Linked DNA regions of Homo sapiens: region 2 is linked to region 1. The links come from fine-mapping of genetic effects on gene expression. A gene starts in region 1. The other region holds a variant in brackets. All regions are shown on one strand. Distances are between the middles of the regions.

What was found. PIP is the estimated chance that this variant, and not a neighbour inherited with it, causes the effect.
Region 2: its variant is fine-mapped to the expression of DOCK5 in whole blood (INTERVAL, PIP 0.91).

What each region holds. Positions count from the first base shown.
Region 1 is chr8:25,176,140-25,188,478 of GRCh38, reverse strand. DOCK5 (dedicator of cytokinesis 5) reads right to left here and starts at 3,790. Exons shown (of 52, transcript NM_024940.8): 1 at 3,528-3,790. The coding sequence starts at 3,570. LOC124901912 (a long non-coding RNA gene) reads left to right here and starts at 4,102. Exons shown (of 2, transcript XR_007060861.1): 1 at 4,102-7,662; 2 at 8,435-10,698. RefSeq lists silencers at 3,493-3,542, 3,713-3,882, 3,893-3,972.
Region 2 is chr8:25,374,253-25,386,591 of GRCh38, reverse strand. DOCK5 (dedicator of cytokinesis 5) reads right to left here. Exons shown (of 52, transcript NM_024940.8): 37 at 11,938-12,028; 38 at 9,168-9,287; 39 at 6,198-6,287; 40 at 3,814-3,918. Among named protein-coding and RNA genes, the nearest start is that of MIR6876, 35 kb to the right of the region's middle. The variant A/GTA (reference allele first, on the strand shown) is at 6,743.

The sequences.
Region 1 (12,339 bases):
CTCACACAGACTAGCTCTGCAGAGGCACACTCCTCTTAGAGCACAACAGGCAAAGTCATAGCTAGCTCTGAGTCATCCAAATGCTTCAACATGACTATCCTACGGTTCCTTCATCCAGAAACCAAATCTGACCAGTACACACTTAGAGAAGTCCAGAAAGCCAATTTTCCCAACTATATTTAAGAAAGTCTGTCTGCTCCATGCTTCCTTGTTTTCTCAGCAGAATATCTCATTCTCTTACTTGCAGAGATAAAGACAGAGTGGAGGCTCTCCCTTCCTCCATCTAACCAAACAAAATTCAACTCATATTGGGGTGAATGAGATGTTATGCCTAATGGGAAGAAAAAGAAGAGGAAAAAACTGCATTCAATTACCAGACAAGCTAGGTTAGTGTACTTTAGAACGGCACCCCAACATCAAGGACAAGCAAACTGAATGCACTAATACCTGGTACACCTGTTGAGTGCTAGGAATACAAAACCACAATGGTCTGATTCACTGAACCCAAGGATGGCACAGTCCAGGAACTGCGAGGAAGAAGCAAGGAGGTTTGGGACAGTCTGACAAATAGCAAATTTGAAGAAGGGAGTAGGAATGGATTTGAGCCCTCAAGGAAAGGTGAGCTGTCTGAGGCAGAGTTGGGAGGGCACTCCTGGCAGGGACAGGCACAATGGGAGCAAAGTCCCAAAGGAGGGACTCTGCAGGGTATGTTGCACAACAGTGGGAAGGGCAGTTGGTCTGCATTGGAGAGCTAGTGAAAGAAGCCTCGAGAGATAATGCTGAAGATAGGCTGAACCAGATTATAGGAACCTTGGAACGGAGGCTCAGACTTTATCCTGTTGACCACGAGAGACTTCCAAGCAGGGAGGTGACATAAACATAAGCAAGGAGGTGACAAAAACAATGAGTTTTAGCAATAAGCAATGGAGATTTCTCTCTTCAGTTAATTTATCCCAACTGTGGGTCCTTTTGTCAAACCCAGACAAACCAGAATCTATGTCTGGTGAAATAAGTGTTCAGAATTATATCCTGGAGCAGTTTCCCTAACACCTAGGCCCTGGAAATGCAATCCAAATATTTTACACACACACACACACACACACACACACACACAATTTCCACCCATATTTCCATATACATATATATATACACACACACACATATACGCATATATACATATATATGTATATACATATATACATATATGTGTGTGTATACGTGTGTGTGTGTGTGTATATATATATATACGTATATATATGTATATATAGTTTTTTTTTTGAGATCGGGTCTCACAGTATCACCCAGGCTGGAGTGCAGTGTCGTGATGGGGGCTCGGTGCACCCTCAACCTCCCAGGCTCAAGCTATCCTCCCACCTCAGCCTCCTCAGTAGCTAGAACCACAGGCACAGGCGACCATGCCCGGCTAAATTTTTTTCGTATTTATTGTAAAGACCCGTTTGCCATGTTGCTATGCTAGTTTTGAACTCCTGGGCTCAAGCAATCCTCCTGCCTCTGCCACCCAAATTGTTGGGATTACAGACGTGAGCCATCGCACCTGGCCCAAATATTTTTCTTGACTGATAAGTGACACAGTAAACTGACTCCAGAACATAAAAACAAAATATTAAAAACAATTATACTTGCTCCTAGGACTATGGCAATAAAAACCACATTTTTGAAACATGTTTGCATTAATTACCCTCAACTGAATAGTTTTGAAAAGAGCTTTTAATCCTGATAAAATTAGAGTTGATAACATTTCTGTAGTGATTGGGCATTGTAAATATGCTTTCATCTAGGGGCCAGGTGAGGTGGCTCATGACTGTAATCCCAACACTTTGGGAGGCCGAGGCAGGCGGATCACCTGAGGTCAGGAGTTTGAGACCAGCCTGGCCCAGATGGCGAAACCTGGTTTCTACTAAAAATACAAAAATTAGTCAGGTGTAGTGATGCAAGCCCGTAATCCCAGCTACTCGGGGAGGGGGGCTGAGACAGGAGAATTGCTGGAACCTAGAGGTGGAGCTTGCAGTGAGCCGAGATTGCGCCACTGCACTCCGGCCTGGGCGACAGAGTGAGACTCCCTCGTCAGTCCGTCTCAAAAACAAACAAACCAAAAAAAAAAAAAAAAAGAGCCCTGAGGCAGAAGCAACATCTCTACCCATTTCTGAGATGCAGCTAAGGGAGAGACTAAGATTCTAAAAGCAACTTAAGAGCAAAAAAGAAAATGTCTTTTGAATTGAGGGAAAACAAAAAATAATAAATATATAAAGGATCACAACCTAAGAATAATATAGTAAATATGAGACTGTTAAAAAACAAAACAAACAACAACAAAAAACCCTGACTCCTGGCTACAGAGTTGAAAAGCCCCTAGACACGTTGAGTAGCTCTTAATTGAGACTGCACTTCATTAACCAGTGAGGTGAGGAAAAACAGGACCTCAGTAAGGGAGTAAAGTCAAAGACTAAATTACAAACAGGCCAAATGAATGGATCTGAGAGGAAGTGATAAAATTCGCAACACACTCAGCCGTGTTTATTGTAGGGAATCACCCCAGGTCTAACTGCCATTGTAATCACCCCGTTCAGGGCAGAAGTCTTCCCACAGGCCCTCAATAACTTCAATCCTTGATAAAAAGCCAAAGGAGCCTGACTTTCCACCTGGGTCAAAATCCCCGCACATCTATTGTTTCGGAGCCAAAGCACCACCACCAGCAACCCCTGCGCACAACCCGGGGCTCTCCAGCACCGCTGTTCTGAATGCCAAGTGCCCAGCACGGGGTCTGGCACAGTTTCCTTAATAAAATGTCCTCTTCTCGTCTCCAGGATGAAACTCAGGATCCGGAAGGCAGCCTTACACCCTCTCCAGACAGGCTCCGTTAGGGGATGAGTGCGCACAAACAGCCCCAGGGGCCAGCCACCCCCTTCCCGTGCCACAACTTCCTGTCCCTTCCATCACTTCCACGCCACGACTCTAGTTTCCATCCAGCTCACAACTGTCATCAAGATCCCAGTCTCTGGAGGAAAGGGGGCAGGGCGGCTTTCCACCCTCAACTCCTCACTTAAGGGGCGTCTGAGAAGAACCTACGAAAGCGGGGGGCAGAAAGCACTGGGACAATGAGCACCAGTCCATGTGCCGACCCGGGCTGGTCACCTACTCCCAGGTGAAACCCACGCTGGGCGCACCGGGGCGAGCCACAGAGCTGCGGCCCCAAAAGAGCAGCAGGCGCGCCCCCCTCGCGTTGACATTTCCCTGGTGTGAAGTGCCGGAGATTGGGATGCAAGAGCGGGATTACGGTCCCGAAGCTCAGCTGCACTTGGAAGCACTCGGAGTCCCCAAACCCTGGGCGACTTCCCCATCGGCGCTCCCTGGAGAGGACTCCTACCGTCCCCGGCTCCCAGAGCTGCGCAGCCGGGCCGAGCCCCCGGCCAGGGTCCTCCGCCGGGCTCTGCGCAAACCTGGCAGGGCCGCTGTCCGCGAACTTGGCCGCGTGGGTCGGGCCGGGACAAGGTGGGGCGCGCACTCACCAACCCCGTACTTCTGCCTCTTGGTCGGGATCCAGCGGGCCATGGCGGCGACCTCGCCCCGCGGCGGCGGCGACTAAGGCTGCTACAGCTCCTCGGGCTCCGGCCGCCGCCGCCCCGCGCTCCTGCGTGCCCCAGACGCTTCCGCCATGTTCCGCCAAACTTCGCTGGACTCCGCGGGCCGCCTCCTCGCCGCGCCGCCCGCGCCCGTGCCCGTGCCCGCGCCGCCCGCGGTCACCTGCTGGGCCGGGCTGCAGCGCAGCAGTGCGCGCCCCTCCTGGCGCCGCCCCAGTCCCTCCCGCCGGCCGCACCCTCCGCCCGCCGGGGCCGCCTCCGAGCCGCGGGCGCCCGGCCTCTCCCGCCCGCGCCGCTCTCTGCGCTCTGCCGGGCGGGGGCCGACTGCGGCTCCGCCTCGCGCGCTTCCCTGGAGCGGCTTCCTGGGCCGGCGGGACTTTGACGCTGGCGGCACTTTGCCTTTCTCCCGCCCTCCCCACCCGGCTGATACCCCGGAGGCTGGGTCCCGGGGGTCCGGCTCCCGACAGAGGGCTGCGCTGGAGGAGCCGGGCACGCCCAGGCCGGGCGGCCGGTGGGCGAGGGATGCGGGCTGCGCTCCCACGGCGCGCGCCGGACACTTGGGGAGCGGAAACGGATCAGCGAGAGCGGCTTCTTGCTCGGGGCACCTCCGGTGCCTGGCACTAAGCGGGCGCGCAATAAATATTTGTTGAATGAATGAGCAGTTGACTTCTGCCTTCACCCCCTGGAGCTTGAACCCGCGCCGCGAGCGGGAGAAGCCGGACTCAGGGCAGACTGAATCTCCCGGGGCCACCGCTTAGAGCCTGGAAAGCAGAACTTTTATCACCGGAGAGCTGGTGCAAGGGAGGTGGGCTCCTCAGAAGTATCAGACCGTTTGCTAGGGGATCCTCTGCAGGGAAATTGTTTAGAAAGCCCTAATTTGGAAGTCCTGTATCCCCAAACTCCGGGGACCCCCCAACCTTAAGCTGAAGAAACTTAGACCCTCATGCCCAGACCTCCCTTTCCCAACCAGCCAGCAGCCCAGAGAGCATTCCCGTGGAGAAAGGGCCAAGGCGCATCCCCGTCTTTTCTCCGTCAACGACTGCCTTTTCTTGACGAAGATCCCAAAGGGGCTGCGCATTTGAACCGCCTTGGGCTCCAGGTGGCGCCCTCTCTGGAGCTCCCCTCTTGGAATTCATTTCTTCCTGGAGAGACTTGGAGAATGAAGATCCAGGGGTTTCTCCCTACCTTGTACCGAGAAGTAACATTGCAAGTAGAGTAAATGACCAGCTTAATTACGTTCACCTTCGAAGAAGATTCCTCTAGAGAGAAATTATATCCTCCTTGCAGCCTGTGAAGGTTTTCATGCGTTTTAGGAATATAAAAGAAAGGAAGACAAACATGTAGTAAAGATAGTAAAGACAGGTAGTTGGCCAGGCGTGGTGGCTCATGCCTGTAATCTCAGCACTTTGGGAGGCCGAGGCGGGTGGATCACCTGAGGTCACGAGTTCCAGACCAGCCTGGCCAACATGGTGAAACCCCTTCTCTACTAAAATACAAAAGTTAGCCAGACGTGCTGGTGTGCTCATGTAATCCCAGCTACCCAGGAGGCTGAGGCAGGAGAATCGCTGGAACCCGGGAGGCAGAGGCTATAAGTGAGCCGAGATCGCGCCACTGCACTCCAGCCTGGGCAACAGGGCAAAACTCCGTCTAAAAAAAAAAAAAAAAAAAAAAGACAGTAAAGATAGATAGGCAAACAAGGTAACAAGATAGTAAAGTTTCATTGGAGAATTAGTGCATTTTAACTTTGGTGGTTTTTTACCAAACGAGGTCTGAAATTTTTTTTAAGTCCTATTCACGGTGGGTAACTACTAGAGCTGGCTTTTTTTTTCTCCATCAACCAATAGGTATTTATTCACAATGTTTAACAATAATTTAAGAAATTCCTCTGTCACTTTAGACTTGACATCCAGAAAGAATTCCACCATCTTCCCTAAAATAATTTATCTTCCTCCATTAGTATATCATGATTCTAATTTCCCAGGTTAGGTAATTTCTTCTTCCTTCTTCACACACATATTAAATGCCTACACGTTAAGTGCCAGGCATCACTCTAAGAATGAGGGTGCAGCGGTGAATACAGTAGAATGTGTCCCTTCACAGAGCTTCTAGTCTAGACGGGGAGAGTAAGACAGTAAAGAAATGTACACCAAACGAGAGTAAACATTAGAGAAAAATCCAAAGCAGGGAGGATAGGGCGTGTAGGGTGCTGCTGTTTTTATGGAGTGGTCTGGGAATGCAGCTCTGCTAAGCTGAGGTTGAGGTGTAGACCTGAAGGAAGTGAAGATTCCGGGAGAAAGTATTCTGGAAAAGAGGAACAGCAAAGGCAAAGGACACCAAGCGTGTTTGGCAGGTTCCCAGGTCACCCAGAGATCCTAGGTAATGAGAGCTGAGTAACAGGTGAGAGGAAACTTGGTCTAAGAGGCAGAGGAATGCCAGATAGAGCAGAACCCTGGCAGGCATATGGACTTTATATATTACTACTACAAGCGAGGTTTGGAGGGCTTTGAGCCAACCTGGAACATATTGAACTTGCCTGCTGTGGTATGAATCCATTGTAAAGGGGCAAGGGAGGCCCACATGGATGGATGTTGGGGGCTATTTCAGTCATTCAGGCAAGACATGAAGGTAGTTGGGTCCAGGAGGATAAGGATGGAGGTGAAAAAGATGTTGGGTTCTTGACATACGTGAAAATAGAGCCTGGCCAGATGTGGTGGCTCACACCTGTAATCCCAGCATTTTGGGAGGCTGAGGTGGGAGGATTGCTTAAGGTCAGGAGTTCAAAATCAGCCTGGACAACATAGTGAGACCCTCCTCTACTATATATATATCCTGGGCATGGTGGCTGTGCCTGTGGCCCTATCTACTCAGGAGACTGAGGTGGGAGGATTGCTTGAGCCCAGGAGGTCGAGGCTAGCAGTGAGCTATGATTGCATCACAGCATGAAAAAGAACCAAGAGGAGGGCCACATGAACGGCAGGGGGATCTACTACTGTGAGGCTTCAATCTTTTTTGGAAAGTTTTCCCCCAGAAAGAGATATGCTTGTATTTTTCTTTTTTTTTTTAAAGAGCCCTACCCGTATCGTACACCCTTCAGGCCCCACACACCTTGGTTCTTGTCCCTGCATGTGAGATACAAGCTGGGTCAAGAATGACTCTAAAGCCAGCTAGGTCGCACATGCCTGTAGTCCCAGCTGCTAGGGAGGCTGAGGCAAGAGGATTGCTTGAGCCCAGGAGTTCCAGGCTGCAGTGAGCTATGCTGATCAGGTGTCTGCACTAAGTTCCGCATCAATATAGTGACATCCTGGGAGCAGGCGACCACCAGGTTGCCTAAGGAGGGGTGAACTGGTCCAGGTCAGAAATGGAGCGGGTCAATTATTTGGAAAGCCCTAATTTGGAAGTCCTATATCCCAAAACTTCGGTACTCCTCCTTAGCTGAAGAAATTCAGGCCCACATATCCAGGGGGAAATCTACCCCAAGACCTCCCTTTTCCAACCAGCCAGCAGCCCAGAGAGCATCCCTGTGTAGAAAGCAACTGGATGCATCCTTGTCTTTTCTCTGTCACTGACTGCATTATTGACAAAGATCCCGTAGCCGGGACTTCACATTTGAACTGCCTCAGGCTCCAGGTGGCACCCTCTCTTGAGCTCCCCTTCTGATCAATAATGGGATGGCACCTGTGAATTGGCACTGCATTTCAGCTTGGACAACATAGCAAGACCCTGTCTCTAAACAAATATTAATTCAAAACAAAAAGAGTGACTCTAAGGTTTGGGGCTTGAATAGCAAGGGAGTAGAGTTGCCATTGTCTTGGTCACCATTTATATCTATCTTGTCTTCACCCTTTCCTGTCCCAGTTGCTCTGTATCAAAGTTTTCCTTTCAATATTTCTTTAGGACCCACTTCTTCACGCCTTCCTCAGCAACTTCTCCATGTGGCCCCTTAGGAGCTAAAGCGCTCTGCACTGGATTATATGACTTGCCTGTTGTGGACTCAGGGCTTCTCAAAGTTACATGAATTCTCCGTGCTTAGGGAAATTGGATGACCTCTGTTCTCTGACCAAAGGTATATTTCAAATGTACCATACATCAGAATGTTAATGCTCTTATCCAGTGGAACTGGGTTTCTACCAAAGCGATTTCAACTGCCTCATCCCACTTTTGCATTGAAGTCTTCTTCTTCCAAAACTAGAGGTTTGAATTTGGGTGCCAGAGATTTCAAATTTGACAATGGCTTTAAGAGAGTTGGAGGAAAATGGAAAATTTTAATTACAGCTTTCAGTATGTTTATCATTTCCTTTTGAAAACTGAAATCCACTCACTTTGCTATATCAGATGGCTAAATCCTAGTGTGAATGTCCTTTTAAATCATAAAAGCAGAGCTTTTCAAAGTCTTTTATTAGAATGAGGCTTAAAATTAGACAGTTAACCAGACAGGCAGTTGGAATGACAGCGTGATGCCCAGAAATACCCTTTTTTTTTCCTCTGATATCTTTTCAGAAGAAACATTAAGCATATTCCACAGAGATCTTCAGACTCCAAAACCCACACAAATACAAACACACTTAAGCACGCACAGACACTCACAGGCTCTGCTTGAAGGAGCCATGGAGAAAGAAATGAGGGTAAGTGGCTTTGAGGGTTAGTTTGACATGAGTATTGTGACTAACCCTTACAATGCCTTAGAGAATAAATGGACAGGATGTGAAGAGAACTGGCAAGAGCCTCACCTCCCTGTTGATTACCAGGCTTGTTTTTGCCAAATCAGGCTGGTCTGATGGCTTCTCTATGAGATGCTGTGGAGTCGTTTAAAGTGTCTTTTTTCTCTCTCTCTCTAGATAAAAGAAGATTATTCTGTGATCCTATACGAGTCAGTGGCTAATGGAACTACCAAAAAAATGATAACAATGCAAATAATGTAATTGGTTCTAAGCAGTGCTTTGCAGGCTCCTAAGGATGGTTCTAAGTAAGCCAGGAGTAGGTGATACATTGTAATTCTGGGACCCATGAGCTTAGCAGGACAAAGGAAACCATGAATCACCCTAGTCCCAGAAGTACCTTTTCATAGGCCCCAGGGATTCCAACATCATTATTCACTCTCCACTCTGCAAGTGACTTAGGTCGTGAGCATCTCTGAGTCTGCACAGGCTCTGCCATGTGGCTGTGGGGGTCCGGCTTCTCTGATGGATGGGAAGATAATGCTCGGGGCTCCAATGCTATTATCTCCTCATCTCTGTCACAAGGAGATTTATACTTATGATTTACCCTTTTCATGAACATGGGAAAATTCTTTTTTCTAGTGTTGTTTCTGGAATGTTCTTTGCTGTGTCTAAATGAGCTGATTCCACTGTTGGGAGAGGTGGATGATGTGAGCAGTAAGAAGGCATTAGTTTCTTGAAAACTAGATCCATATTTAGGTGAGATGAAATCAAACTACCTGATTTTAAAAAAAACAAACTATGTTTATTTACCGTATGTCTTGATTCCTATATACATTGAAAAATTATATTCATAAAACTGTTTAAAATAAGAGATGATGGGCTGGACGCAGTGGCTCATGCCTGTAATCTCAGCACTTTGGGAGGCCAAGGCGGGCAGATCACTTGGGCCCAGGAGTTCGAGACCAGGCTGGGCAACACGGCAAAACCCTGTTTCTACAAAAAATGCAAAAATTACCAGGGTGTGGTGGTGTGTGTCTGTAGTATCAGCTACTCAGGAAGCTGAGGTAGGAGGATTCCTTGAGCCCAGGAGGTGGAGGTTACAGTGAGCTGATGTGGCACCATTGCATTCCAGCCTAGGTGACAGGGGGACCCTGTTCCCCCTGCCAAAAAAAAAAAAAAAAAAAAAAAAGAACAAAAAGAGAGATGATGAAAACTTAGAAGAAATGTGGAAAATGTATAATGTAGGCATAAATGAAAATAATTAGATTGTCTATGCCGCAAAATGATTGTAGCTATAGAAAGTCATAGATTTACAGGGAAAATGACCATAGAAGAACATGAATAAATGACAAATTTTATTCAACCTTCTTCAAAACAAAATAAAGAAAAATACTTGATTGCTGAAGTCTCTGGGCTATGTAGCAAGAGTAGGAAGTTATTTGCCTAAATCTGATCATTTTTTGTGACAAGAGTGAAGTTTCACTCTTCAGTTCCTTGGGCACACGGACACTATGACTATCTTGTTTAGACGACTGTCATATTCAGCAGATTTTTCTTCCTGTTTGTGGTCAGTTAAGAAAACAAGCATTTAATCCAGAACTTGTATTTAATACCAGAACGATTTTATTTTTTCACAGCCACCAACTGTAAAGTAACAATAATAACTGCGTATGAAGTAATGAGTACTGGCTCCAAATCACCTTGTTTAATCCCCATACAACCTAATGAGGTAAATATAACTCTCCGGTCATTCCCACCTCACAAATGTGGCTTAGGAGGTGTCCAGAAATTACCTACATAATTAATTAGTGGCAAAATAAAATCCAGACCCAGACAGCCTGACTCCAGGGTCCATGCTCTAAAGCAGAGGTCTGCAAGCTTTTGCTATAAAGGCCCCACTATGGATAGTTCCCAGGCTTTGCAGGCCATATGGCCTTGTTGCAACCACTCAACTCTGCAGTTGTAGCAGGGAAGCCTCTATGAGCAATACATACAATGAATTGAGTGTGGTTGTGTCCCAGTAAAACTTCATTAGTTGTGTTAGATCAAGTTTAGACTAAACCTGCCTCCTTACATATTTTAAGTTCAGCCTAAAGGTTTCTCTGTACATAGCGAACTATAATCTCAATGGAAGTGTAAACAGACCAAAACCTATTCTTGTGCCAATCACTGAGTTTTGGCCAATCAGAGGAGGCAAACTGTTAAAACTGTCTTCAAATAAGGTAAACGCCCAGCTGCTGAGCTGTAACCAATCCGCCTGTTTCTGTACCCCATTTCCGTTTTCTGTACCTCATTTCTGTTTTCTGTACATCACTTTCCTTCTTCTGTTATAAATCGTCTTCCACCACGTGGCTGCACTGGAGTTGCTGAGCCTACCCCGGCTCAGGAGGCTGCCTGATTCTCAAGTCGTTCTTTGCTCAATTAAAGTATGTTAAATTTAATTTGGCTATGGTCTTTCTTTTAACAGTAGATTTGAAATTTGAATTTCATGTATTTTTATGCATATGAAATATTATTCTGGCCAGGTGCAGTGGCTCACCCCTGTAATCCCAGCAGTTTGAATGGCCGAAGTGGGCAGATTGCTAAAGTCCAGGAGTTCAAGACCAGCCTGGGCAACATGAAGAAATCCTGTCACTACAAAAAACACAAAAATTAGATGTGTGTTGGCACACACATGTTGTTCCAGCTACTCAAGAGGCTGAGGTGAAAGGATCACTTGAGCCTGGGGAGGTTGACCTTGTAGTGAGCTGCGATTGTTGTGCCACTGCACTCTAGCCTGGGCGATAAGAGTGATACCTTATCTTAAAAAAAGGAAAGGAAAGAAAAGAAAAGGAAAGGAAAGAAAAGAAATATTATTGTTTATCCTTCTTTTGATGTTTTTCTTTATCATTTAAAAATGTAAAAAACATTCTTATCTTGGCCAGGCGTGGTGGCTCACCCCTGTAATGCCAGCACTTTGGGAGGCTGAGGCGGGCGGATCACGAGGTCAGAAGATCGAGACCATTCTGGCTAATATGGTGAAACCCCGTCTCTACTAAAAATACAAAAATTAGCTGTGTGTAATGGCATGTGCCTGTGGTCCCAGCTACTCAGGAGGCTGAGGCAGGAGAATGGCTTGAATCTGGGAGGCAGAGGTTGCCGTGAGCAGAGGTCACACCACTGCACTCCAGCCTGGTGACAGAGCGAGACTGTCTCAAAAAAAAAAAAAAAAATTCTTATCTTTATCTTATCTTTATCTTGCAGGCTGCGCAGGAGCAGGTGGTGAGGCAGAGTTGGCTCTTGGGCCTTAGTTTGCCAATCCCTGCTCTACACTATGACTGTCACCCCTTTAGGTGGGTGGGAAGGCTGGGGGCCTCCAGAAGGAGCAGCATAACTAAGGAAGCATGTGTGGTGCTTTCCCACTGGAAGTCTGTTTGCATAAGGATTTGTGAGAAGCCCTTGGAAAAAAAGTCATGGGAAGAGGAGGACTCCAATAGTAAAAGTTGCCATAGAAATCAGAGGATGGGGGCACTTCTGAGAGCAGTGAATATCGTGTGTTGGGGAATTGTCTACTGGCCTAGCCCTTTGAACTCTATTCCCAGTGATAAGAACTATAAATATAAAACTTGGCTGGTCACAATGGCTCATGCCTGTAATCCCAGCACTTTGGGAGACTGAGGCGGGAAGATTACCAGAGGTCAGGAGTTCGAGACCAGCCTGGCCAACATGGTGAAACCTCGTCTCTACTAAAAAGACAAGAATTAGCAGAGCATGGTGGCACACGCCTGTAGTTCCAGCTACTTGGGAGGCTGAGGCAGGAGAATCGCTTGAACATGGGAGGTGGAGGTTGCAGTGAGCGGAGACTGTACCGCTGCACTCCAGCCTGGGCGACAGAGTAAGAGTGTCTCAAAAAAAAATTTTGACTAAGCCCTGGTAAGATAGCAACACACAAACAATGCTTTGGTACCCACTGAACAAGCAGGCTTCTACAGAGGGGAGTGTGGCATTCTCATGGGTATCCCAATGGAAAAGACATGGGGCCTGCCTGAGATAAGGGTGCTAGAAGGAGGTATGACAACATCTATTAAAATATTTGCAAGGCC
Region 2 (12,339 bases), 200 kb before region 1:
GGGTCTCACTCTGTCATCCAGGCTGGAGTGCAGTGGCTTGATCACAGCTCACTGTCACTTCTAATTCCAATACTCAAGCAATCCTCCTGCCTCAGCCTACTGAGTAGCTAGGACCATAGCACATGCTACCATGCCTGGCTAATTTTTAAAAAATTTTTTTATAGAGACGGGGTCATGCTATGATGCCCAGGCTGGCCTCAAACTGCTGGTCTCAAACTCCTGGGCTCAAGCAAGACTCCTGCCTTGGCCTACCAGTGCTGGGATTACAGGCATGAGTCACCATGCTTGGCCTCAGACCTTCCACTCTTTATTCTTTCCTCTGCCTGGTCCACCTCATCCCCAACCACGGTTATTTTAACTCCATACAAGTAACTCACCAACTTTTCTCTCCTGTCTGTAACTTCACTTGAGTTCCAGATCTATACAGCTAATGGTTGACTTGTGCCTTTTGGATGTTCCAAATGTACCTCCCCTTGAGTACGTGCAAAACCAAACTTTGCAAACACTTTAGAAAGCCCTGGGAGGCCCTCTGCTATCTGGTACCAACAGCCACCTGCCCCATTCTCCTATACACCCTCTTGTACACAACTACTCCAGCCTCATAGCTTTTGGACCTGCTATTCTCAAGGTCTGGGACCTTTGCTCAACCTCTTGATAGCTGCATAGCTTATTCTTTAACTTTTTTTCTGGTTTTTGCAAAAATGCCATTTTCTTTCTGAAGTCTTTCTTGTTTACTGTATTTAAAATTGTAACTCCATCCCCAACACCTGCCTCTCTAGTCCCCTTCCCTAAGTCCTTTTCTCCATGATACTTACTGAGTAGCTACACTGTAGGAGGCAGTGTTCTAGGCCATCTCTCATACTAAATAGTTTATTGATTTATCTCATTTTTTGATCTCTCCAAGCTGGAACATAAGCTAGATAATTTCAAGATTTTGGTTCGTTTTGACTCTGCTCCCATGCCTATATTAGAGCCAAGTATATGGTAGGAGTTTAATAAATATTTACTCAAGGAATAAATTCATTCTCTCCTCTGTGACTCTGGCCTTTTCCGGTCCTCCTGTCCCAGTAAATGGTTCAACTACCCCCTCCAATGATGCAGGCCAGAAGCCCAGAAATCATTCTTGACAACTCTCACTTCCTCACCCACACAGCCCATCAATCATCAGATGGCTGTGACCTCATCTCCACCCCTCTAGTATTTCCGCTTCTCTGTAAAGCCACCACCCCCACGTCCCGAGTCTAGCCTGTCATCTCTTTTCTGAACATCTGCAATGGTCTCTTAGTGGTTTACCTGCAGCACCTCCCATCCATTCTCCATGGATGACCATGGAGACAAAAGCCAGATGACCTTTCCAACACGAAAAGTCTGCAGCAGCTCCCACTGCTCTCAGGATGTAGACAGAACACCCCAGGAAACCCCAAGGCCCTGCAGGCTCTTCCAGGGCTCCCCGCCTCCCCGCTGGCACCCCAGCTCTCTCTGTGCCTGCTGCACTGGCCCTTCCTTTCAAGGCACTGCCCTGCTCTTGCCTGATGCTTCCTCTGCCTGCAATGCTTATTCCTACCCCCTTTACCTGCTCCACTCCCAGCTTACCTTTCAGGTTGCAGCTGAAACAGAGGATCCCTGGAAAGTCTTTCCTGATTTTTTTTATTTTATTTTGAGATGGAGTCTGGCTCTGTCGCCCAGGCTGGAGTGCAGTGGCACCATCTCGGCTCATTGCAATTTCTGCCTCCCGAGCTCAAGTGATTCTCCTACCTCAGCTTCCCAAGTAGCTGGGATTACAGGTGTGAGCCACTGTGCCAGGCCCTGATTCTTTTTTTTATTAAGACATAGGCTGGGCACGGTGGCTCATGCCTATAATTCCAAAACTTTGGGAGGCTGAGGCAGGGGGATCAACTGAGGTCAGGAGTTCGAGATCAGCCTGGCCAACATGGTGAAACCCCATCTCTACTAAAATACAAAAAATTAGCTGGGCCTGGTCGTGCACACCTGTAATCCCTGCTACTTGGGAGGCTGAGGCACGAGAATCGCTTCAACCCAGAAGACGGAGGTTGCAGTGAGCCGAGATTCCACCACTGCACTTCATCCTGGGTGACAGAGCGAGACACTGTCTCAAAAAAAAAAAAAATAAATAAATAAATAAATAAATAAATAAATAAAATAATAATATTAAGACATAATCTACATACAGTAAAATGGACCCCTTTTAGTGTAAAATTCTGTGAGTTTTGACAAACATAACCAGGACCACAATCAAGATACAGAACAGTTTCACTGCCACCAAAAATTTCCCCAGGCCCTTCTGCAGCCAACCTCCCCCTGGCCAGCAACCACTGATCTACTTTCTGTCCTGATAGGAAGCGTTGCCTAGGCAAGAATTTCGTATAAATAAAACCACAGAGTACGCAGCCTTTTAAGTGTAACTTCTTTTACCTAGCAAGCTGCATGTGGGTGGGAATCATGCCCGCAGTTGTGTGTATCAGGAGCTGACTGCCTTTGGCTGCTGCAGTATTCTGTTGTGTGGATACACTGAAGTTTGTTTATCCCATCACCAGTTCAGGGACACGTGGATTGGATCCTGTCTTTGGTGACTATGATTAAAGCTGCTATAAATATTCCTGTACATTTTTTGTAAAAGGGTAAGTTTCTATTTCACTTGGGTAAATACTTCCTGGTTACAGATTCTTATAGCACAGGGTATCTTTCTTGGTTATAGTTTATTTATTTATTTATTTTTGAGATGGAGTCTCGCTCTGTCACCTAGGATGGAGTGCAGTGGTGTGATCTCGGCTCAATGCAACCTCCACCTCCTGGGTTCAAGCAATTCCCCTGCCTCAGCCTCCTGAGTAGCTGAGATTACAGGCATGCACCACCACGCCCAGCTAATTTTTGTACTTTTAGTAGGGACAGCGTTTCAGCATGTTGGCCACACTGGTCTCGAACCCCTGACGTCAAGTGATCTGCCTGCCTCAGCCTCCCAAAGCGCTGGGATTACAGGCATGAGCCACTGCGTCCGACATGCAGATTAAATTTTACATTCATGTGTGATTAAAATCTCCCCTCATGAGTTTAGGTTGTAAAATCCATGAGAGTAGGGACTATGTTTGACTGTAATCAGCAAGATCTTTCTAATGCCTTCCCTATGCCTGGCACACAGTAGATGTTCAATAAATATTTACTGACTGAATGAATAAACTGTCTCATTAGGCACTGTTAGGAATGTAAATTGCTTGCTTTATCGCTTGTTTTCAAATTAGGAGAAAGCAGATGGATAATAAATGTTTAAGCAAAGCTCAGCTCTAAAAGAAACTTTTCGTAAGAGATAAGAATTTTTATTTATTAAACTATAAATTGAATATCGCATTATACACAATTTTGAGATGGAAGAAAAATACCATCCTTGTCATTATTATTATAATAAAATGTTTTATTTTGGGATACTCCTGCAGTCTGGTTCTTGGGATACCTATTTTCAAATTAGCTCTGGCTAGAAACATGGTAAACAACGAAATACATCAGTCCACACTTTTCCCTGGCGTGACCCGTAGCAGCTGACCAGTGCGGGGGATGGTTCTGTTTTTCCCTTTTTCACTGCACCTGGGAAAAGTCATTTCACAAAAGACCTGCAGAACACCACGGGTGTCCGGGGGTGTGGGGTGAAGAGGCCGGCTGCTCAGGAAGTGGTTTCCCTCCCCTACCTCCCACAGCGAGAACACGGGTCGGCAGCTGCTAACACCCTGTTGCCCATCTGGAAAAGAAATGAGTCTCTTCCCTCCTCCTAATGGCCTGGGAGACCACCATCAGGTTTCTTACCCGTAGGAAAGAAGGAAAGCCCTGTCCATAGTATCCAACAGCAAAGTATTCAGGCTGAGGCCTCATTGCCTTAATGATGTTCTCATAAAATGAGGCCCTTTTTTTCTGGAAAACAAAACAAGACATTCCAAGGGGAGGTTATAAGTACACAGTTGGGGGAAAAAAAAAGTCAGACTTTGTTTTGTTGTTTCCCACGTAACCCAGAGCAATGAAAGGTCTTTGGAAAACACCCTATGGGCAGAAAAGGGTTATCCTATTCTCGGATCACAGGTTTTGGACCTGGGCTCCATGAATGGACGTTGGAAGGCTGTGACTCCCTGAGGGTGTATGCTGAAGTGTGTGCACGTTGGAATTCTTCTGCGTAACGGGGCAGTGCACAACTTTCAGCAGTTTCTCAAAGTGGGCTCAGGGACTACAAAAGGTTAAAAAGTGCATTCTGAGATTCACAGAAGGCGGCTGCACTTAACCAGACACCCATGGGAGAAGATAAAGAACCTTCCAAGGCCAGGCGCAGTGGCTCACGCCTATAATCCTTGCACATTGGGAGGCAGAGGTGGGAGGATTGCTTGAGGCTAGGAGTTTGAGACCAGCCTGGGCAACATAGTGAGACTCCATCTCTACAAAAAATTAAAAAATTAGCCAGCAGCTGAGGCAGGAAGATGTCTTGAGCCCAGGAGTTCAAGGTTGCAGTGGGCTATGACTGCACCACTGCACTCCAGCCTGGGTGACAGAGTGAGACCCTGTTTTGAAAAAATAATAATAAAATAAAGAACATTTTTAAAAAGAAGGACTGTGTAGTTCATGCAGGTGGTCTGGATGAAAGTGTCTGGTAAATTATAAGTGCCCAGAAGGTGGTGGTGATGTTCGGTTTTTCAGTATCTGCTACCATCTTTATCTTTAATTCTTCACAAGATGAGGGGCTTTCCAGCTTTGGCTCACAAGGTCAGCCTTAAAGAAAGCAAAATAGCCAGCCAGACGTGGACAGCTTTGAGCAATGACCTGAGCCCCCTCCCCTACAATGGTTAGCATGCCATTACTCTTCTATCTAGGTGATGGTCTCGTCAAAATACTATTTTCTTAGACCGGTATGTAACATGTTACATTACTAATATTTCAGCTCAGTTCAGTTGATGAAATTTTTTTTTTTTTTTGAGACAGGGTCTCATTCTGTTGCCCAGGCTGGAGTGCAGTAGCATGATTACAGTTCACTGCAGCCTTGACCTCCCAGGCTCAGGTGATCCTCCCACTTCAGCCTCCCAAAAGTAGCTGGGACTAGAGGAAGGTGCCACCACACCCAGCTAATTTTTTATATTTTTTGTAGAGATGGTGTCTTACTATGTTGCTCAGACTCGTCTGGAAGTCCTAGGCTCAAGTGATCCATCTGCCTTGGCCTCCCAAAGTTCTGAGATTACAGGTATGAGCCACCGTGCCCAGCCCAGTTGATGAAATTAATAAGTCAGTTTTTTGCATGTGAAGCCAGGGGCTGGTAATAGCACACTGGTAAACTTTTTACAAAGTGATCTTGACACCCAGCTCCTCAAATAAATGATTATTTCATGACTATGGGTGACCTGATCTTTTCTAACTCCTCTACTAGAAATTATTAAATTTAATATTATGGTTGCCTACCACTGGGCATTCAGAATGGTGGCTGCCTACCATCAGGCATTCAGAATGGTGGCTGCCTTCTATTGGGCATTCAGAAGAGTGGCTGTCTACCACTGGGCATTTGGAATGGTGGCTGCCTTCCACTGGGCATTCAGAATGGTGTCTGCCTACCGCTGGGGCATTTAGAATGGTGGCTGCCTTCCACTGGGCATTCAGAATGGCTGCCTCCTCCACTGGGCATTTGGAATGGTGCTGCCTCCACTGGGCATTCGGAATGGTGCTGCCTCCACTGGGCATTCGGAATGGTGGCTGCCTCCACTGGGCATTCGGAATGGTGGCTGCCTCCACTGAGCTTTCAGAATGGTGGCTGCCTAACACTGGGCACTCATTTTTGTTTTGCTTTACTGATGGCTGGGAATATGGAGGGCCCACAGAAAGAAAAATGGCTTCAGGAAGAATGAGAGAGCTGCAGACAGAGATCCTGAGGGATGTGGAAAGCGAGTCACTACTATCTGAAACTCAATATTCCACCACACTGTCGAGACAACCCCACTCCACTTCCAGAGATGTCCTGAACCTTCTCTGAAGGATATTTGGCAGAAATATTGATCAGAGCCTTTGGACTACATCTTTTTTCATTCTCATTTCAAGCAAAGTTGACTTTTCCATTGTAAAAAAACACCATTCATCCTGACTTTCAACTTACGGAAACATTTTCATGAGTGCTAATTTTAGCAACCCTGTCAGAGGCCTAACATATTTTGACCCAGACTCACCAGGAGGTTGCCAAGGCCCTCGTAGTCAAATACTTTGCTTTCGTAAGTCTCAGCCAACTCTTTGCTCAGCTTGATGGCCTTCTCCCACATCTTCAGAAAAAGGAAAGTAAGGTTAAAAGTGGAGAACAAGGCAGTCATTGATTCAGTGGCAAAAGCCACTGGCGAGTCACTGGGAATGAGCAAGTGGTCTGGGGGATTGAGTTTCGGTAGATATTCCTCACTCGCTTTATCCCTTAGATCAGTGAAACCTTCATTTCCTGACATCATAAAGACAGTGTATATTGGCAGCTTTGCCAGGGGCGTCTTCTGTAGTTCTGTTTGCACGGACATTAAGAATAAGTACCATGTGTCGCCCAAAAAAGCAATACTGTGTTTAACAGGTCAAGCACCTACAGCACTTCAAAGTAGAGAGGAAGCTCTGCCAGCCCAGGTTCGGAAAGCATGCAAGTCTGGTTGGAGGGGGAAGGGAAGTTTCTGTGGGACTTTGGTTCTGAAATGTGTGTGTACAGGTGTGTGTATGGGTGTGTGTGTGTGTGTGTGTGTGT[A/GTA]GGTGTAGTGATGTTGTTTGTGGAGATGGAAAAAGGCTAACAGTACTGTTGTGTGGTGTTGCAGGAAGTCAGGGACCCCGAATGGAGGGACCGGCTGGAGCTGCGGCAGAGGAACATAAATTGTGAAGATTTCATGGACATTTATCAGTTCCCAAATAATACTTTTATAATTTCTTACGCCTGTCTTACTTTAATCTCTTAATCCTGTTATCTTTGTAAGCTGAGGATGTACGTCACCTCAGGACCACTATGATAATTGTGTTAACTGTACAAATTGATTGTAAAACATGTGCGTTTGAACAATATGAAATCAGTGCACCTTGAAAAAGAACAGAATAACAGCGATTTTTTGGGAACAAGGGAAGACAACCATAAGGTCTGACTGCCTGCGGGGTCGGGCAAAAACAGCCACATTTTTCTTCTTGCAGAGAGCCTATAAATGGACGTACAAGTAGGAGAGATATCACTAAATTCTTTTCCTAGCAAGGAATATTAATATTAAGACCCTGGGAAAGGAATGCATTCCTTGGGGGGAGGTCTATAAATGGCCACTCTGGGAATGTCTGTCCTATGCAGTTGAGATAAGGAAGAATAAACAGTCTCCTGCAGTACCCTCAGGTTTACTAGGGTTGGGAAATTCCACTCTGGTAAATTTTTGGTCAGACCGCTTCTCTGCTCTCAAACCTTGTTTTCTGTTAAGATGTTTATCAAGACTATACGTGCACCGCTGAACATAGACCCTCTTCAGGAGTTTCTGCCTTTTGCCCTTTGTCCTGTTTCCTCAGAAGCATGTGATCTTTGCTCTGCTTTTTGCCCCTTGAAGTATGTGACCTGCTCCCTGTTGGTACACCCCCTCCCCTTTTGAAATCCTTAACAAAAAGTTGCTGGTTTTGCAGCTCAGGTGGGCATCACGGTCCTACCGATATGTGATGTCGCCCCCGGCAGCCCAGCTGTAAAATTCCTCTCTTTGTACTCTTTCTCTTTATTTATCAGCCGGCCAACACTTATGGAAAATAGAAAGAACCTATGTTGAAATATTGGGGGTGGGTTTCCCCGATAGTGTGGAATTTGGCAAACTGTATTTCAATGCAGGGCACTGATTTCCCTACTTAGTGGATGAGTTTTAGGAAATGCCTCCGAGCATGTATAACCATGTAAGTTACAGGCTAAAGCACGTCCTCAGTGTCTGAGGCTAGCAGCCCAGATTGAGCCTTCTAACCCCTTTGGTATTTCATGAGCTGTCTCTTAGACGGATACTATTCAACTTGCAGCATCGGGTCACCTCCTGCTTCATTCCTGTTCACAAGGTGCTATGTTCCATTGTTTCTGGCTTCTGAGGAAATGTGTGCAGAGCCCACAAGCCATTGGGAAACACTTCAAAATTAAATCTTTTAAAATCATTGTTTGCAAAATCTGTCCCCCTCTGAAATCTCAGAATTCAAGAATACACAAGGGAAGAATAAACAGTAGCTGTGAGTTATTGTTGTATATTAAATCATGTATCTGGTCTTGGTCCTGAGTTCCGGTGAATTTTCTTAGAATTTCTCAAATAATAAGAGTGTCTTTGTTATTCCTGGTGCCCCCACCCCAGGATCATACCCAAATCTATGCTAATGAGGTGACTCATGGTGGTCTCCTAGTCTCAGGATGGGGGCTGCCATGCCAGAAATACTAATCATGTGACTAGAAGGTTAGGGCTGTGAGCCATGCGATATCAGCCCAATCTTCAGGGACAAAAGGAAGGCTAAAGATCAAGTTCATTGTGTAGTTAACGATTCATTCAATCCTGCCTGTATAATGAAACCCCACAGTGGCTCATGCCTGTAGTCTTGGCACTTTGGGAGGCCAATACAGGAGGATCACTGGAGCCCAGGAGTTCTAGGTTCTAGACCAGCCTGGGCAACTGGTGAGACCCCATATTTACCAAAAAAAAAAAAAAGAAACCCCAATAAAAACTCTGTACACCCATGGCTTGGGTGAGCTTCCTGATTGAGGAACACACTGATTTGCTGGGAAGGTGCCCCGAGTTCACAGGGGGAAGACACAGAAGCCCCACGCTTGAGATTCTCCCAGACTGTTCCCTATGGGTCCCTTCATGTGGCTGGCCCCAGTTTACATTCTTCCTGATGAAACTGGAATGGTTAAATATAGCACTTCACTGTGTACTATTGGTTGTTCTAGCAGACTATTAAACCTGAGGGGGCAGTGGAAGCCCCCCAGATGTATACCCAGTTGCCCAGAACTGTGAATGGACTGGGGACCCCCAAATTTGAAGATGGCATCTGAAGCGGGGGCAGTCTCGTTGGAGACAGTGCCCTGAACCTGGGTAGTCAGTGCTAACTCCAAGTGGTGAGCATCAGAATTGTATTGCGATACTGCGGTCATTTTCCTCTTTCCCCTAGTACAAAAACAATCCAATACTCACTTTGCCTTTGTCGAAATATGATATGATTTCTTGATACAGCTTCTCTTTAAGCTCTTGCTGGGTATAAACATAGTAACTGTCCTTCTGAAGCAAATGAGGCACACAGGGCTTGTCAGACCACTGAAAAGGAAGAAAAGCGACACACGGTTAATACAACAAATATTCAGCCCCCCAACATCAAGAAAATATTGTATATATATTTGACTCATTGATTTTGTATTTTAGATTATGTATTAAACACAAAAGTTACATATACACACATATACACATGCCAGCTCCAAAACAAGAGTATCATGCCAAATGAAGGAGCACTCACAGCATCCCCCCAAAATGCCAGCGACAAAGCAAGGTCGCTAACTGACATGACTGTCGTTGTACTGGGGCATCAGTAACACAGTCAGATAAAAGGAACAAATTAGGAGTATAAAAATGAATAGGAAGAGGTAAAACTACCACAATTTGCAAACATTATGGTTGTATTCCTCACAATGCAAGGCAGTTGACTAAGAAACTGCGACACACAATAAGAGAATTAAGTTACGCAGCAGGAAGAACAATTAATATACTTGAAATAAAATTTATTTCAGATACACGGAGACTAAATATACAGAATAGAAGAATGGAACCAAACAAAAATAAGTCCAAAAAGAACATTTCTAAGAGTGAACATTACAAGGAATATGCAAGACTTATATGCAGAAAACTTTCACACGCCATTGAAGGGCACAAAAGCAGACTCGAACAAATGGAAAGTCATACCATGCTTTTGGATAAGAAAATTCTATTTCATTAACATGTAAATTCTCACTAAATTAATTTTTAAATTTCATCTTTCCAAAGTCCATATGGAAAAATTAACAAAAAGGAATAGGTAGGAAAACTCTGAAAAAGAAGAGCAATCAAGAGTAACTACCAGGTCATAAAACACACTATCAAGAATTAATAATTAATACAGTATGGTACTGGTACATGAACAGACAGAGACCCACGTAAAAGCATATACAATCTAGAAAGAGATTCCCTCCCCCCAAAATAAGAATTTAGTAATAAAGATGGGATCTTATACCAATAAGCAAAATGTGAACTATACTTAACAAACAGCATCTCTATTGAATAGCAATCTGGGGGGAAAAAAAGCTGCATTCATACCTCATATCTTACACCAGGATAGGAGAGTTTACCTTCCTGAGTTTCCCAAATGAAAAGACCTACAGTTACAGACACTGGGGATTTCTTTCTGATCATACAATGGCGAAATCCACAGTCAACAAGCCTCACTTTCTAAGCTATATACAGTAGGTTGCTTTTTTTTTTTTTTTTTCTTTTGAGACACAGTCTTGCTCTATCACCCAGGCTGGAGTATGGTGGCACCATCTCAGCATACTGCAAACCTCCGCCTTGCAGGTTCAAATGATTCTCCTGCCTCAGCCTCCTGAGTAGCTGGGACTACAGGCAGGTGCCACCACGCCTGCTAATTTTTTGTATTTTTAGTAGAGATGGGGTTTCACCATGTTAGCCAGGCTGGTCTTGAACTCCTGACCCCAAGTGATCTGCTGGCCTCAGCTTCCCAAAGAGCTGGGATTACAGGCGTGAGCCACCAGGCCCAGTCCATTATACAATAAGCTTTTTAATGCCCTAAACTTAAATATGAATTGTGAATTTCCTTTGGGAAGTGGTGAGGCATAGGAATCCTATTTTTAACTCATATGTTCGGACAATGCCCATATATTACTTTAGTATAAAATATAAACTGTAAAAGAATATTAATAGCTGAGAACAAAACTGGAGGCAGAGACACCAAACAGGAGGCTGCTGTAGTGCTCAAGGTGTGACATGCTTACGGGATGGACCAAGGTGGTAGTCAGGGAGATAAAGAAAAGTGGATTGGCTAGCATGGTGGCTCATGCCTGTAATCCTAGTACTCTGGGAGGCTGAAGTGGGAGGATTGCTTGAGCCCAGGAGTTTGAGACCAGCCTGGGAAACATAGCAAGATCTCATCTCTTTAAAAAAAAAAATAAAGAAAGAAAAAGAAAAGCGGATAAGTTAGGGGCATGTTCTGAACAGAGGGGCCACATCTCTCGCTTGTGGAGAATGTGGGAGGTGGTGAGTAAAAGAGAGAAATTGAAGATGACTATGAGGTTGCCTGAGCAACTAAATGGATGGGAATGTTATTAGTAACATGGTAACAAAGTGAGGTAGGATGGGCTGGGGAGGAGCAAAGAGTGAGAAATAAAGGTTCCTGTTACCGCCTTGTTCAGTTTGAGCTGCATATTGGCCAATCAAAGTTTATATGTAAATCCAAAGTTAGAGAAGGTGCTCAGGGCTAGAAATAATTACTTGGGATTCATAACATATAGATGTATTTATATCTAAACCACAACATACATTTATTTAGGGAGAGAATAAAAATAGAGTACTTCTATGGTACTATATTCACTTATAACTCATCTTTCTGCAGTTTTCTGCAGTTTTACAAATTTTTTTATGTATTCATCAATGTGTGTTTTATTGCTTTAATTAGAGTGTCAATTACCAAAGGTTCATAAGTCGTGCTCTGCTTTCTAAGGATTTTTAAATAAAAGATAACTGACATTTTCCCATACTTGATCTACAAATTAGCTGTGCCTATTTAGAAAGAACTAAAAAAACTTGTATAAAAGGATATTCCTGGAATAAAGTTCTTTCCCATCAAAATCATGAAATGTATAGAATTTAGTCTGAAAGGACACTGTACTCCACCCTGTTGAAACAAGCTCTCTGAGCCATTCACCTGCAGAAGCTCAGCGTGCAAGAGAAGCGTGTAGGCAGCTTCTGTGTAGTTCTCACAGTCTCGGTGCAAATCTCGAAGCTTGTACAGATATCTGGCAAGAAGGGGAGAAGGAAGCATTTTGTCACTCGAGAGTTTTATAGGTTTTTTAGTTCTGTTTTGAGACAGGGTCTTGCTGTATTGCCCAGGCTGCAGTATGCAGTGGTCCGATCATGGCTCACTGCAGCCTTAAGCCCCAGGGCTCAAGTGATCCACCCACCTTAGCCTCCTAAGTAGCTGGCACGTGCCACCAGGCCCGGCTAATTTTCGTATCTTTTGTAGAGACAGGGTTTCACCATGCTGCCCAGGCTCGAGAGTTGATTTAGTGTTCAGCTCATTCCATAACCAGACCCCAGCCTGCTTCCC